Regions from separate parts of the Homo sapiens genome. Here region 2 is linked to region 1. Evidence: fine-mapped expression QTL. Tissue or cell type: testis. Region 1 holds a variant in brackets; the other region holds the start of a gene. All regions are shown on one strand. Distances are between the middles of the regions.

Evidence for each region. PIP is the estimated chance that this variant, and not a neighbour inherited with it, causes the effect.
Region 2: FRAT2 starts here. The variant in region 1 is fine-mapped to the expression of FRAT2 in testis (GTEx, PIP 0.97).

The regions. Positions count from the first base shown.
Region 1 is chr10:98,287,150-98,295,252 of GRCh38, forward strand. No RefSeq gene overlaps it. Among named protein-coding and RNA genes, the nearest start is that of LOXL4, 23 kb to the left of the region's middle. The variant T/C (reference allele first, on the strand shown) is at 4,004.
Region 2 is chr10:97,331,344-97,339,446 of GRCh38, forward strand. It overlaps FRAT2 (FRAT regulator of Wnt signaling pathway 2), which reads right to left and starts at 3,386. Exons shown (of 1, transcript NM_012083.3): 1 at 1,154-3,386. The coding sequence starts at 3,229. The coding sequence ends at 2,528. It overlaps LOC105378448 (a long non-coding RNA gene), which reads left to right and starts at 3,503. Exons shown (of 2, transcript NR_188201.1): 1 at 3,503-3,628. RefSeq lists enhancers at 2,097-3,004, 5,542-6,060 and silencers at 2,555-2,604, 2,615-2,744, 3,085-3,234, 3,325-3,474, 3,605-3,954.

The sequences.
Region 1 (8,103 bases):
CATACAAACACACACGCACACACATACTCATATATAGAGGGGATTTCTTAGTGGAACTGGCTCACGCAGTTTGGAGGCTGAGAAGTGCCACAGCAGACTATCTGCAAGCTGGAGACCCTGGGATGCTGTAGTGTGGCTCAGTCTCAGAGCCAAGGAAGCTGATGGTGTAATTCTCAGTCTGAGGCTGATGACCTAAGAAGCTTGGGGGCTGCTGGCATAAGTTCTGAGTCCCAAGGCCTGACAGCCTGAATTTCTGATGTCCAAGGACAGGAGAAGAAGAGTGTCCCAGGTCTAGGAGAAAGAGAGGCGATCACCTTTCCTCTGCCCTTTTTCGTTTTATTCAGGCCCCCAGCTGATTAGATGGTGCCCACTTACACTGAGGGCAGACCTTCCCCACCCAGTCCACCCACTCCCATGCCAGTCTCCCCTCCAAGCAACCTCACAGACACACTGGGAAGTGATGCCTTACCAGCTCTCTATAGAGTCCTTCATTCAGTCAAGCTGACGCTTAAAATTAACCATCACGCCAGGTATGAAGCGATAAGGACCCTCCACTGAGGTGTAGGCAAGTTCGTAGAGGTGGTCATGTTTGAGCGAATGGCCTGGTAATGGTTTAAAGGCTTTTATTGAAGTATGGGTGGTGAACAGAGCTGCCTGCCCTCCCGTGATCAATCCCAGTGCTGTCTGCCTCCTCTCAGCACCTAGTCCTATGCCTGGGCCTGGGAAGTGCTTGATAAATTCTGAATGAACCCAAGGACCTGGGCAAAGAAACATGGTTCATTACCAGGAAAAAAGGAAATTTAGACTTACCTCAGTAAAGGAGTGATCAAATAACCCATGGTATAACCCTGGTATGGAACATGGAGCAACAGAGAAAAAGGATGAGAAAAGCAATCCCATTATTGGGTGTATACCCAAAGGAATATAAATTGTTCTGCTATAAAGACACATGCACGTGTATGTTCACCAAAGCACTACTCACAATAGCAAAGTCACAGAATCAACCTAAATGCCCATAAGTGGTAGACTGGATAAAGAAAATGTGGTACATATATGGAATCTACATGGACGTGAAAAAGAACGAGATCATGTCCTTTGCATCAACATGGATGGAGCTGGAAGACATTATCCTAAGTGAACTATCACTGGAACAGAAAACTAAATACTGCATGTTCTCACTTATAAGTGGGAGCTAAACATCAAGTGCCTATGGACACAAAGAAGGGAACGACAAACACTGGGGCCAACTTGAGGGTGGAAGGAGGAGGGTGAGGATTGAAAAACTACCTGTGGGTTCTATGCTTATTACCTGAGTAGCCAAGTAATCTGTACACCAAACCCCCATGACATGCAATTTACCTATATAACAAACAGGCACATGTACTCTTGAACCTAAAATAAAAGTTAAAAATAAAAAATAAATAGAAAAAAGTATAAGAAAGACATGGAATGGTTTCCAGACATAAAGTGAAAAAAGCAAGTTCCTCACCAATGTGAGTAGAAGGATGCCATTTGTGTAAAGAAGGAGAAGCTCAAATTATGAGTATGCAAATGTGTTTGTTTGTTTGTTTTTGAGACGGAGTTTTTGCTTTTGTTGCCCAGGCTGGAGTGCAGTAGCACGATCTCGGCTCACTGCAACTTCCACCTCCCAGGTTCAAATGATTCTCTTGCCTTAGCCTCCCGAGTAGCTGGGATTACAGACTCCCACCCCCACGCCCGGCTGATTTTTGTAATTTTAGTAGAGATGGGATTTTGCCATGTTGCCCAGGCTGATCTCGAACGCCTGACCTCAGATGATCTGCCCACCTCAGCCTCCCAAAGTGCTGGGATTACAGGCGTGAGCCACCGCGCCCGGCCTGCAATTGCATTTTTAAAAAGTATGGAAAGATGTGCAACCAACGATTGACAGGGGTTTCCTCCAAGGAAGGAAGTGAGATGGGAAAGGAGGACATTCACTTTGTGTGTTTAAGTTTTGCTGTGTGTTCTGCTTTTCTTTTAAAACAACTAATATGCATTCCTTTATTACCTGTATAATTAAGACTTTTAAAAATTAGAAATATAGTCAGCTTTCTGTGTCTGCGGGTTCTGTATCCTCAGATTCAAACAAGGGCAGATCAAAAATATTTGGGAAAAAATGATAAAAAATAATACAATAAGAAATAATATATATAAAAATACAGTATGACAACTATTTACATAGCATTTACTTTGCATTAGGAATTATAAGTAATTTAGAGATGATTTAAAATAAGCTTGTCCCACCCGCGGCCCACAGGCTTCATGTGGCCCAGGACAGCTTTGAATGTGGCCCAACATAAATTCATACGCTTTCTTAAAACATTATGAGAATCTTTTGCAGATTTTTTTTCTTTCAGCTCATCAGCTATCATTAGTGTTAGTGTATTTTATGTGTGGCCCAAGGCAATTCTTCCAATGTGGCCCAGAGAAACCAAAAGATTGGACACCCATGATTTAAAGTAAATGGGAGGATGTGCATAGGTTATATGAAAATACTATACTATTTTACATTAGGGGCTTGAGCACCTGTGGATTTTGGTATCCATGGGGGGCCCAGAACCAGTCTGCACATACGAGGAATGCCTGCATAGTTATGAAATGGGTTTGAGGAGGCCACGATACTCAATTTTGTTGTGTAGTTGAGGGAACAGTGGTGGCTGACTATGCATGACCAGGAGGGGGCTGAGATGAGAATACCTCCCATTGCAGGGAGTCTCAAGCCCCAGTGTGCACCAGAATGAGCATCAAGGGGTCGCTTAAATGCAGAATTCTCAGCCGTACTGACGCAGGATGTCAGAGTGAGGGATCTGCATTTCAGCCAGCTTTCCGGGATCCTGACAACGGTGGGTCCTCGGAGCACTCCTGTGAATCCACAAAACTGCCTCCCTCCCTGGGCTTAGCAGCCAGACAGCAGGCCACCAGCCCTGCTGGCTACCTGGGCAGGGCGACTTCCCCTTCAGCTGCATCTAAGCTGAGGCAGGAGAAGCTGGTGTGTGCTCTGTGGGGCAGCCCCGCCTTCAGAACGTGTGGTTCAGCGGGGTGAACACCATCCTTTTTCACCGCTCCATGCCGTGAGCTGGTGGCACTGCTCCCCTCGGGATCTTCATTTATTGAGGGACAAAGGTAACAACTTAAGCTTCCCTGGGCCATTCTTAAAAGACACCCAACCTGCCCAAATGATCCATTCCAAATTCATTTGGAATTCTAAGCAAGTAGGGCAAACTGGTGTTAATTAAATGTTTAATTCATGTCCATTAAGGCTAGAATATTGGTTTTCATTCAAATTTATGGCCTGGTTGTATTTTTTATAGCTGCCCATATATTGCATATAGGTCATTGGTTCCCTTCCCTCAGTGAAGTGTTCAGTGTATTTACGCCCATTTTATAGGACCTGGAGCATAACTTGAGTATTTTCAGTGGTTATAGAGACACACAGTATTCACTTTATGACATTGTTGGTCACATCAGTGATAAATTTGCTGTCGAGTTACCACTGATCAGGCTAGTAATCACCAATTACAACCCTGTGGCTATGGGAAAATATGGGCTGCTTTACAGCAATCTATTTTATTATTCGATTTTCAGGAACCTGTTGAGGTTCAAATGTGAGTCCATTTGCACATTTACAAGGTAGGGGGCAGGGGTTGAAGGGCCCTTTACCTCACATGGCCAAGGCAAAGTCTAGAAGCAGACTTCTGCAGTTTCATACATGAGTTTTCAGAGTCCCTCAAAGAGTTACAGAGAGTTACAGAGGGGTCTCCCTCCAGAGTCCCTCTCATGAGTTACAGAGAGTCCCTGTAGAACAGAGTGACTGACTGATCTGTGCAGGTGGGAGAGGAACACAGAGCCTCCCTTCCTCTGTTGTTCAGGCCTTTCGGAAGCCCTGGCCCCGGACCTTTCACCTTTCAGGAGTGATTCTTCTATCAGTGATGGGGAGCTCTAGAACCCGGTCTCCAACAATCAGCAAAACAGATGCAGAGGTCAG[T/C]TTGGGTTCAGTGGCGAAAATGGGGCCCGAACTGACCCTTCTTTCCTGGTAGCCCTTGTTTCCAGAAAACTGATGTGGCATAGCTTTCAATTTCCAGAATGCATGAAGTAGGCCCCCCTCTGTTACGTGTAACATAAGAGCTGGGAGAGATCTTAGAGATCTGAGAGCCAATGTTCTTCTTTGATGATTTTTTCAAAAGAGAAAAAAAATTTTTTAAAAAAGAGAAAAAAAAATAACCCAACAACATACAAACATAACTAATTTTTCCTGCAAACATACCGTGTACCAGACCTACAGTAAAGGCTGTGCAGGCATTGCCTCATTTAGTCCTCAGAATAGGCTGCTGACGGAGGCATTCTTATTACCCCCATTTACAAATGGGAGATGTGAGGTCCAGTGAGGTTGAGTAATTGATCCGTCGTTACCCCAGCGAGAAGGTGGCTCAGCTTTAAACCAGGTCTTCCTGATTCACAGCCCAAGCTCTCAACCTTATGCTCTGGAGAATTCGTTGTTTAGTTGCGGAGTGGAAGTTGGGATCCTGAAGATCCCAGGGAGACGAGGAGGGGCAGAAGGCATAGAAATGGTCCAGAGAGAAAGTTCAGAGACACAACCACAAACGTATTCAGCCACTTTCTCCAGAATGGAACTGTATCCTCTGCATCAGATCTGTTCCTGGCCCCACACATCTGAGAACAGTTCCCACACTACTGGAAACTTCTCTGTTGTTAAGCAAAGCATTTTTGGATTTTTGCATGTTTACAAAGTATCTTTGCCTCAATATTTCTGGAGGAGTTCTTGCTTCCACATGGCATGGAAGCAGGCTGTGTGCATCCTAAACCTTTATTTAGAGCTTCTTCTGATGTTCACCACAAAGCCTGGATCACGTAACAATTGAAACACCACAAATTGTGACCTTATCAAACCTGCAAGAGTTGATCCCAGTAAACACTTGAGGTTTGGAGCAGCACAGTAACCTGCCCTCAGGCACACAGCAGAGCCCTAAGACCCAGTTCTCCAGGGACCTGCCCTATCTCTTCTCCCAAAGTTCACATCCCACTGTGTCCACCTGGAGCTTCAACTTGAGGTGCTTTCAGCCTTAAGAACACCTGGTATTTTGGGAAAGCCACAAATGGCTCACAATCACTCTGTATTTCATTTCTGGACTTAGCTTTTATTTCAGTTCCTTATGTCCCTACCCTTCACCTTGGCGGGAAGATGACTTTGTTTTCAAATAAAAGTAAAAAAGAAAGGATATCCATTGCTGATGAGAATGCAAAATTGTAAAACCACTCTGGAAAAGAATTTGGCAATTTCTTATGAAGCTAAACACACACTTACCATAGGATACAGCTCACGCCTAGGTATTTGCCCTGAAGAAATAAAAAACTTTTGTTCACAAAAAAACCTGTACATGAATGTTTATAGCAGCTCTATTCACAAAGGCCAAAAACAAAAACAAAAACCCACCTTGAAACAGTACACATGTCTTTCATCAGGGGAATAGATGAACCACGGCGCGCCCATGCAGTGGAATGCCACTTAGCAACACAAGGAACAAACTACTGATACAGGCAATGACATGGTGCATCTCAAAGGCATCACGGAATAGAAGAAGCGTGTCTCAAAGGCTACGGACTCGATGATTCCTTTATAAAGCATCCTGGAAAAGACAAAACCATGGTGATGGAGGACAGATCAGTCGTTACCAAGGTTATGGGTTGGGGAAGAGTGTGACGAGAAAAGGCAGCATGAGGTGTTGGGGTGACGGAACTGCCTGTACTCCTGAACTGTGCTGGTGGGTATGTGAATCTATCCATGTGTTAAAACTCATGGAACTCTACACCAAAATGAAAGTAAAAATGAAAAAGGAAAAGCTCCATTTCTGCCAGAACAATCTAGCTCTGACAGCACAGGAAGAGGGATTTCATGTGGAGGAGGTTGGTGCTCGGCCAATCTCTGAGGATCCTGCCTTTCCACCCTCCAGACCAGCAAGACAAACCCTGGTCTAAGGCTCTGGCTCCGGCAGGTGCGTCCATCACCAGCAGTTCCCTCAGTGCTTGGAGGACGTCCACCTGGCTGACAGTCCATCTCCACCTCCCCATGCAGTTGGGGGGCAGCAGGCTACCAGATCCAAGACTTTCTCTGGACTCCTTTGGGAGTGGCCCAGAGGCTCTGAGGCTCCTTTTCCTCTGGATGCTGGGGGGCAGCTAGATGGCTCCAGGTGATAGAGGTGTCTCTCACACATGGTTGTTCCTTTGAGCTATGCTCCACTCCTTGGGATTCCAGAGAAAGGAAGCCTCCCTTCCACTTCCATCCCCCAAATCATACACATATCCACAGGAATCAAGCAGCAGTCACTTCGTGCTGCTACTACTGGGAAAAGTCTTCCAGAATCAAATTAGCTTGAACTGGCCAACCTAGCCAGGAGCCCAGGCACACAGACATGAATAACCCGAGGATTCCAGGAAGAGGAACTGGAGGACGGTCAGCTCCCAGAGCAATGGCACCGAGGTTGGCAGTGCCTTCTGGCCCTGTCTGAGCAGGAACACATGTCTGCAGCTGGGAGCTCTGTGGATGGCCCTTGTACCACAGAGTCATATCAGGAGGCAGGAGGAGAAAAGGCCAGGTGGTGGCTTTAACCATGTGTGGTCCCAAGGGAGTGGTCCTCAGAGTGGCAGCTCATGGCACAAGTGACTGGCAAGGCCATGGTACAGAGCTGGGCAATCCTGGGCAGGCTGGGGCTGATGGCTTCGGCTGCTAGTACTTTTCCCCATTTACTCATCATACTGAAAAACAACTCAGCCCACTTGCGGTGAGCTCTGCCCTGCATTTTTCACCTTTGAGCTATCATTCCAAGGAAGAAATACCAGCCCAGGAGGAAAGTTTTGGCCAAGTTCAAAGGGAAGGGCTTGGGGAATGGAAAGTCCTCTGAAACCTTGCTTAGACGGTGACTGCCTGACCCAGATTTTGCCTTTTCAAAAATATGCTTGGAGCTCAAAGGCCGGGTGTCATGCAGACATGGGCGTGACAGAGTCACAGGGAAAACACATCAACCAGAGCACAGCTGGATCCTCACTCAGAGAAACCTCAAGCCTGAGCATTGGGCAGGACTCCAAAAGTCAGCCTGGCTGTCACATGTTTCTGCAGGGGCTTCTGAGGACACCCACAGAGGTGAGGCTTGAGCCCACCCAGTGTTCCTGGCTGGGTCTTCTCTTAGGGCCAGTTCCTGTCCAAACATGAGACTCCTCTCCCCTGTCCCCATCTCCTGGGTGTCTTATTTCCCACCCTCTGGCATGGATGCTGAGACCCAGGAGGTGACTCCAGGAGGTACGCAGTGTGGCTACTCCACTGGGCGATGTTTCTGCTGCCTGGTCTATGTTGACAGGTGCTTCCCTAACTTGACACTCCTACAGGGATGGAGCTGGAGAAAACGGGCCAGTGCAAAATTGTACATGTGTCCTCCCCCAATGCCCCAACACATACACACTTTACTGGCATCTCTATGACAAAAAGAAAAGCCCCTACCCTTTCTGTTTCTAGCAGGGCAAGTGAGTTTGACCCAGTAAAAACAATGTCTGGTCTCATCCTCATCTGCTTCGAGGAGTTAATTCCTCACTATTCCCCCTGCCCCTGGAGGAAGGAGGGGAGGAAATGCTGAGACTGAAAGGGGTGAGCCTGTAGGCTAGCCTTTTCTGGTTCCCAGTCTCTAGAGTATGGTTGTTCAGCCCTGAATTACTTGGGCACAAGCTGGTGCCCAGTACCATGACAAGCTTGGGTGTCACCCCAACCCCAGCTACCTGGGGCCCCTGCAGTTCCATGATTTCCAAAGTGTCATGTCAAAGCAAACTTTATTTTATTATTTATTTAATAAATAATAAATAATGTCACCCAGGCTGAAGTGCAGTGGTGCAATCACTGCTCACTGCAGCCTCAGCCTCTGGGCTCAAGCGATCCTCCTACCTCAGCCTCCTGTGTAGCTGAGACTACAGGTGCATGCCACCACACCTGGCTAATGTTTAATTTTTTCATAGAGATGGTGTCTCACTATGTTGCCCAGGCTGATCTCGAACTCCTGGACTCAAGTGATCCTCCTGCCTTGG
Region 2 (8,103 bases), 960 kb before region 1:
ATGAAGTCTCCCCTTCAAGTCCTCATTTAACCCTTCCAACTCCCCTATTAAGTACTATTGTTTTACAAATCACAAGGGAAAAACTCAGAGTCTTGACTTGCCCACCATGACACAGCTGGTGAGCAGAAAGGGCTGAGGCAACTGAGCATCAGCCTTCCTCTGCAGCCCCAGCCTCGGGAGTGTGCTGAGCAGGAGAGGTTCCCCGGGGGCTGGGTTAGTAGAGCTGGGCAAGGAAGGGGCAAGGCAGGGGCCAGGTGTGGTGGCTCACGCCTTTAATCCCAGCACCTTGGGAGGCCGAGGAGGGCAGATCACTTGAGCTCGAGTTCAAGACCAGCCTGGGCAACACAGTGAGAACCCATCTCTACTAAAAATATAAAAAATTAGCCTGGCATGGTGGTATGAGCCTGTAGTCCCAGCTACTCAGGAGGTTGAGGTGAGAGGACTGTTTGAGCCCAGGAGGTTGAGGCTGCAGTGAGCCAAGATCGTGCCACTGCACTCCAACCTGGGTTACAGAGTAAGACACCATCTCAAAATAATAAAATTAAATTAAAAAGAGAAAAGGGCAAGGCAGGAACTAGGAAGGGATTCAGCAAGGGCTCTATGCCTGGGAAGACAGGGCAGAGAGAGAATGAGGAGAGGAGGAGGGCTACTTCGGTCAAATCTAACCCCTGAGTGCTCAAACCAAGCCATTTTACAACTACCAAATACACTGCTGTAAAACCCTGTTTTTCTCTCCCAAGGCCATAGCTCAAGACTAGGTCAGTCTCAAAGGGGAAAGCAGGCTGGCTTCGCCTGTGCCCTCCCCATTTTGCACAAAAACGTCCAGATGAAAACCCACCTCCCTCCACCACAGCACCTCTTTGCTCTCCAGCCCAGAAAGCATTTCTAGAATACATTGTCTTTCCACAAAGGGAGTGGAAGCCCATCTTGCAGCTTCTAAAAACCTGGACTCAATTTTCTGATCTTGTGGAATAAAAACTTAGAAGCACTCAAGTCCTGTGGCTCTACTAGGATTCTGTGCCCATCAGCATTGGCCCAAACCATTTGTCCAGGTCCCCCCCCCCCGGTTTAGCCCAAGTGCCCTCTTTATTAAGGACATCCCCATATGCTTTTCTGCCCCTCTCCCACCTTCCACCAAAATGCCAAACCGTGCTCCAAAACAAAAGCCAAATTTATTCAGCAGACATTTTAATTATGAAATCCTATAAATCAGGACCACCACAATTTCAGACACTCCGTTGCGAAGTGTACATCAATAGCTACATCTGGAGGATGAACAAGCCATTGAATCTTTTAAAAATTGGTTTAGCTACCTTAAAGTTTGGGGGTGGCACCTTACAAAAGCGCCGTCAAGTTTCATACAGCCAGCGGCTTCTTCTCTGGGAGAGTCACATTTTAAAACCGGTTTCAGACACAAAAGAAGGGCTGGCACGGGAGGAGGAAATAAATTGTGAGGGTGAGGAGCCGCCGAGGCCGAGGCCCATGACTCCATGGAGGGCCAGAAGAGAGCAGAAAAACGTCCAGGGTCTCTCATGCATTCCTATAGACACCAGAAAGGGTGGAATAAGAAAGCTCAGCTGGGAGGACAAGAAAGAGACTCAAGAGATCGTTTATGACTGTTTCTGAGAAAGCTCCTGGCATGGCCATGAGTGGCCTTCCGGGAGTCCTGTAAAAAGGAAAGCACAGAAAACAGGAAAGAACTCTCCCTACACGTCCCTCTCTGCCTGTTTGTGTCCTCGGGAGACTCCAAGCGGTGGTAAAGCACCAACAGGGCTCTTCTTGGAGCAAGAGAAAGAAAAGACTCCGGGGTGAGTAAGCTCTCCCAGGAACCCCACAGCAAACCGTGACCTTGAACACAGATGGCAAGGTCAAGTCATTTACAAGTCCACATTCAAATCCAAATCTCCCACCTGCAAAATTCTTCACCTCTCTCCAGTCCCTTAATTGGAGTTCACATCTCCCACCTTCACCAGCCACCGAATCGGTGGGAAAAAGGGGCAATGCCAAGCCACCCACCACCAAACTTTTACATTCTTCTCCCCTCTGGAATTTCTTTGCACAGCAATTGTAGCACCACTTACTAAGCTCCTCCACCAGAAAATAAGAAAATGTATGCGTGTCGTTAGTTTTCAAGTATTGTTATAAAGCCATCGCGATTCCTACCCCTGAGCCCTCCTTAAACAATCCAAGCTCACGACGCCCCCAAGGGCTAAGTGAGGTACAAGTCGATGCAAGTAGCTGCCATAGTTCTCCCAGTTTATCCCAGGTCCTTGGGCTTGGATGGCCCGGGAAATTCTCATGCCCCACGGAAGCACCCTGGCGCATACATTTCTCCACGCTTAAGTTTTCTCCGACGGCCTCGCCGCGGCTGGTAACTTCTCTGGTTGAGATCTCTCCCCACGCGCCTCCCCGCAGCCAAAGTGGTCGCTCCCAGGCTGGCGACGTCGGCTTCAGCTCAGAGTTAGTAGGAACTGGACGCTGTTGGGTCTACGCAGCGGCCTCCACTTCCTCCTCCAGGAGGCCTGCGTCAGAGCAAGGAGCCTGAGGGCTGCAGGGCAATGCGGTCAGGTCCGCTGCGGCCTCCCCCGGGCCCAGGGGCGCTTGCGGGGCCCGTGGCTGCAACCGCGGCGACGGCTCGTTGGAGTCTCCGCACGGCTTCCTTGATGAGGTTTCCCGAGAGCACGAGCTGCTGGAGGAGCCGATGCGGGTCGTCGTCGCCGGCGCGTGCCCCGGCTTGGGTCCATCGGCGCTGCTGCAAGCGGCGGGAGGTGACCGCGTCCCTGAGCCATCCTCGCCGGCACGGCCCCGGCAGCGCGCTGGGGCCTGCGGCGACCTCCGCCACGCAGTAGGGCGCAGCGCGTCCGCGCACGCGGCCGCGGTCCCCTAGGGCGCAGCGCAGGGCCCCAGAGGGCGCCGGGCCCACCGTCTCAGCCGAAGCGGGCGGCAGCAGCAGCGGCACCGCCGGGGGCCGGGCCTTGTCCGCCGGCACCGCCGCAGCCAGGGGCCCCGGGGCCCGCAGCGGCACCCCCGGGGGCGCGCACGGCGAGGCCGGGCTGTCCTGCGCCGCGTCCAGCTGCAGCGTCTCGCCGATCTGGGCCACCAGCCGGTCCACCTCGCCCGAGCTGCCCAGCGTCACCGACTGCTGCAGCAGGAGGAAGCTGTCGTCCTCCTCTTCCTCCCCCTCCGCCTCCTCGCCGGCTTCCTCTTCCTCCTCCCTCCGGCACGGCATGGCCCCCCGTCCTGGCACCCGGAGCTGTGCGGGCTTCGCTGGGGGCTTGGTTGCCCGCGGGCGCGGAGCTGCGGGCGAAGCCGGAGCAGGGGCGGACGCGGAAGCCGGAGCCCGCCAGGCACTCGAGCCACGCGCCTGCAGCCGCTGGAGCCGGAATCCTGCCGGCTCGGGTTGATTTGTAAACAATGGGTGACGTCGCGCCGGGCCCTACCACCGCACCGGGGCGGGGGTGACGCGCGAGCAGGCACGGGGGCAAAGGGCGGCGCGGGCGGTGACCGAAGCCGTCCCGCGCCTGTGTTCGTTGTCCCTCCAGGAGGGGGTCCGGGGCGTGGGGACTGATTTCCGACCTCCCGGGCCCAACGAGCCGTGCTGAAACGTGGCGCCTCGGAGGAGGCTGAGGTTGGTTTCTCCCACGCACGGACACACCCACACCCACTCCGGGCCCGCCTCCTGGGCCGCGGCCTCCCTCCCCACGTGTCGGCCGCGCCTAAGCCCGCCCGACTCCCGCCCCGCGCACCCGCAGTTCCCGGCCCTGGTCGTGGGGGAGGGGCGGGCCGCCGCGGGTCCGGCTTCGACGAGGCGGGGCGGGGAAAGGCGGAGGGAATTGGGAGTGAAGAGGCGGCACGTTACTTATTTACTTATTTATTATTTAGAAAAGGTCTCTGTCGCCCAGGCTGAAGTATAGTGGCGCGAACACGGCTGACTGCAGCCTCGAACTCTGGCTTAAGTAATCATCCCACTTTAAGCCTCCGGAGCAGCTGGGACCACAGGCGCGGCCACCACGCCTGGCTAATTAAAAAAATTTTTTTTGTAGAGACGGTGGTGGGGGGGGGGGGTCTCACTATATTGCCCAGGCTGGTCTCGAACTCTTGGGCTCAAGGAGTCCTCGCTCCTCGGCCTCCGAAAGTGTTGGGGTTACTGGCGTCAGCCGCCGCGCCCGGCCTAAGAGGGGACGCTTTGAAGCAGAGCAGAATCGCTCTGAGGTGAGGTCCCAGAGGCTTTCCCTCCCGCAGTCTTCAAGCCCCCGGACATATCATGAGAATAGGACTCACCGCCGCTCGGCTAAAGAAGGGTCTTTTTTTTTTTTTAAGGTTCAAATAGAAATATAGGGGATTGGCCAGGAGCGGTGGGTGGCTCATGCCTGTGATCCCAACACTTTGGGAGGCCGAGGCGGGCGGATCACCTGAGGTCAGGAGTTCCAGACCAGTCTGGCCAACATGGTGAAACCCCATCTCTGCTAAAAATACAAAAATTAGCCGGGCGTGGTGGCGGGCGCCTGTAATCCCAGCTACTCGGGAGACTGAGGCAGGAGAATGGTTTGAACCCTGGAGGCGGAGGTTGCAGTGAGCCGAGATCACGCCACTGCACTCCAGCCTGGGCAACAAAGCGAGACTCCGTCTCAAAAAAAAAAAGAAAAATATAAGGGATGGAAAAAATCTCTCATGGTTCACATTTAAATTTTTTTCCTTTTTAGCCTTTGTTCTATGAAAGTGTAGTATACAAACACATGCATACAGTGTTACACACTTTTCCACTTTGCCTTACATCATAAACGTTTTTCGTGTTATTGCATGCACTTTGAAAACATTTTAATGATTACATAAGTTTCCATCAAGTGCCTATGTTTTTAACATTTGCCTAATTTCACCATCGTTAAGTGTGTAACTAACATTTTTGTGCGCGACACTTTAAGATATTGATGATTCTTTCCTTAGGGCATATTCCCAGGAGTGGAATTTTAAGTCACAGTAGTTGGGTATTTTAAGGTTTACTGATAAATGTTCAGGAAGTGTCTTTCCAAGAGTTAGGTAAATGTACTCTACCATCATTAATGCTTGAGCATACATCATTACACCTTCACTAGTATTTGAGTATTATTGAATTTTTTTTTTTTTGCGGATTATATAGGGAAATTTTCTCCCTTCAGTTTGCATATCTTTGATTTCAGTTAGGTAGAGCAGTTTTCTAAATGTTTGTTAACAAACTGTACTTCCTTTCTTATGAATTGTCTATTTCCTAATAAGATTTTCCTAGGGAGTGTTTCTTACGTATTTGCATGACTCCTTTACATACCAAATGTTAACCCTTTTCATATTTTGCCGCAAATACGTCTCCAGGCTTTTGTTGGCTCTGTACAGTCATTTTTTCCCCCACTAAAACCAAATTTTCATGTAGGCAAATTTTAAAATCTCTTTGAAATTTCTAACACGATGCTAAATTTGGAGTCTCCTTGCTGCCAGAAAGTTATTAAATATTCCATTCTATTTTCTTTAGATTTTTCAAATGCCTTGATTTTTTTTTCAAATCCATCTGGGATTAATGTTGGTCTTTGTTTCAAGGAGATGACATGAAATTAATTTTTTCCTGGAGAGCTTGCCAGCCAAAGGTGTGTTTCTTCACTAGGACAGAGGTGTGAGGGTAGCATAAACACAAGCTGTCTGGTGAGTTTCCAGTTGCTGGTTAAGCTGGTGGTTGTGAGGAGTGGGTGGGGCTGGGAATGTTTTGATCAGTCTGTTGTGTGAAGTCAAAAGAACCCAGAACAGGTTGTACAAAGACCTAGATCCAAGTCTCATTCCTGCCACATCCTGGGTGTGGGACTCCAGGCAAATCAGTTTACAAGTGTTTTCACTTGTAAATAGGAGAAATAATCCCTGCCTGGCCTCCCTCTGAGGATTGTTTTCAGGATCAAATAAGATAATGGGAACGGGTGTTGTCAGGCATTACACAAATGTAGGATTAGGTCCAGCGGTTTACTAACAGAGGTCTGGCTCAATTCCAGCGAGTCCCCCCTGGGGAGCATTTAACATAATAATGTTGAAGATCCCCCCCATGCAGCCCACTAGGTGAAACGTACCCTGAGGGTATTACTTCTGTGCACTTGCCAGGTTTCTTAAATTCTGCCTCAGGTCTACCCTGACCTGGGATTGTGTAGGGCTTTACTGAAGTCAGCCCGGAGGCTCCCATGCCCCACAGTGAGTCTCCGCAACTAGTTCTGCAGGTTTGAGTGATGGAGACTTTCCCAGTGGGCAGCCTCCCACCTCCATCTCCCGAGGGCTGTTCACACACTTTACTGATGAGGACTGGAAGCCATTCCCCCCGGAGAGACTGATTCTCATTTTCATTCCGATGGTACTTACTGGAGAATTTCGAGAGGAATGAAAATTAGGGGAGGGCTTACGGATTTCAGTAGAGTTAAAATGGTAATGTTTTCCTCCTTTCTGTATGATGATGCCTGGCTGTAAGTAGAGAAAAGCAGTTTTATGCTCCATTGATTTTAAACATTAATGGGTCTGGTTTAACTATTGTCTCTCACCCAGCATCCCTGGAAGTTGTTTTTGTTTTCCTGTCAGGGTAATTCCAATAGTGTTCTTCGTACTATAGGAAATGGAGCTTTGAGATGGCATTCTTTAAAAAAAAAAAATCTTCCCTTTGTAATGTTGCTTTTGTGTGAAGATTGCTATGTAAATATGCTGGGACTTGGATATTATACTATTCATTACAGAGATGAATTCATTACAGAAGACCAGCTCCATTTTCTGGGGGCACCTCTCTGGAGAGCTCTGAGAGAGAGAAGTGCTGTGCTGGACCAGTGGGAGGCAGAGAAATGCCCTGGATTAGGAAGCAAAATACAAGATGCTAGAAAGACTCAGATGCAATTAAAAGTAATGAGACGGTATCAAAAAGGGAAGCGATGAGAACTTGTGAGCCCAGCACACTGGCTCCCTGCCTGGAAAGACACACTCTCGGACAGCATTCACAATCGCCCAGGGAAGAACAGAATTCAAGGGTTTTCTGCATTCACTTAGATTGCGTTGAAATTCTCTGCAAGGAGTTTGCTTTCCACACAGACCTTGTTTCAAGTTACCTGCCCTCAGAGACATTAGCTACAGTACAGTGGGATGAACACTAGGCTTGGGAATACCACCTGGATGGGGTCACTTTATCCTTCCGTGCCTCTGATTCCTCATCTGTAAAATGGGGGACGGTCCCTTCTTTATGAAATGGTTATATTACATGAGAATAATATGTATGGGAAGACTCATCATGTGGACCCTGAGGGTGGTGTTGGCATAGGTTCTAGGGAGCAGAAATACTCTTAGGGATGTTCGAGTTTTGTTTTTTGAGATGGAGTTTTGCTCTTGTTGCCCAGGTTGGAGTGCAATGGCGTGATCTCAGCTCACTGCAAACTCTGCCTCCCAGGTTCAAGCGATTCTCCTGCCTCAGCCTCTTGAGTAGCTGGGATTACAGGCAAGCGCCACCATGCCTGGCTAATTTTGTATTTTTAGTAGAGACGGGATTTCTCCACATTGCTCAGGCTGGTCTCGAACTCCCGACTGTCAGGCCTCTGAGCCCAGGCCAGGCCATCGCATCCCCTGTGACTTGCACGTATACATCCAGATGGCCTAAAGTAACTGAAGATCCACAAAAGAAGTAAAAACAGCCTTAACTGATGACATTCCACCATTGTGATTTGTTCCTGCCCCACCCTAACTGATCAATGGATCAATGTACTTTGTAATCTCCCCCACCCTTAAGAAGGTTCTTTGTAATTCTCCCCACCCTTGAGAATGTACTTTGTGAGATCCACCCCTGCCCACCAGAGAACGACCCCCTTTGGCTGTAATTTTCCATTACCTTCCCAAATCCTATAAAACAGCCCCACCCTTATCTCCCTACGCTGACTCTCTTTTCGGACTCAGCCCGCCTGCACCCAGGTGAAATAAACAGCCATGTTGCTCACACAAAGCCTGTTTGGTGGTCTCTTCACACGGACGCACATGAAACCAACCTCAGGTGATCTGCCCACCTTGGCCTCCCAAAGTGCTGGGATTACAGGTGTGAGCCACCGTGCCAGCCTGATGTTCAAGTTTTTT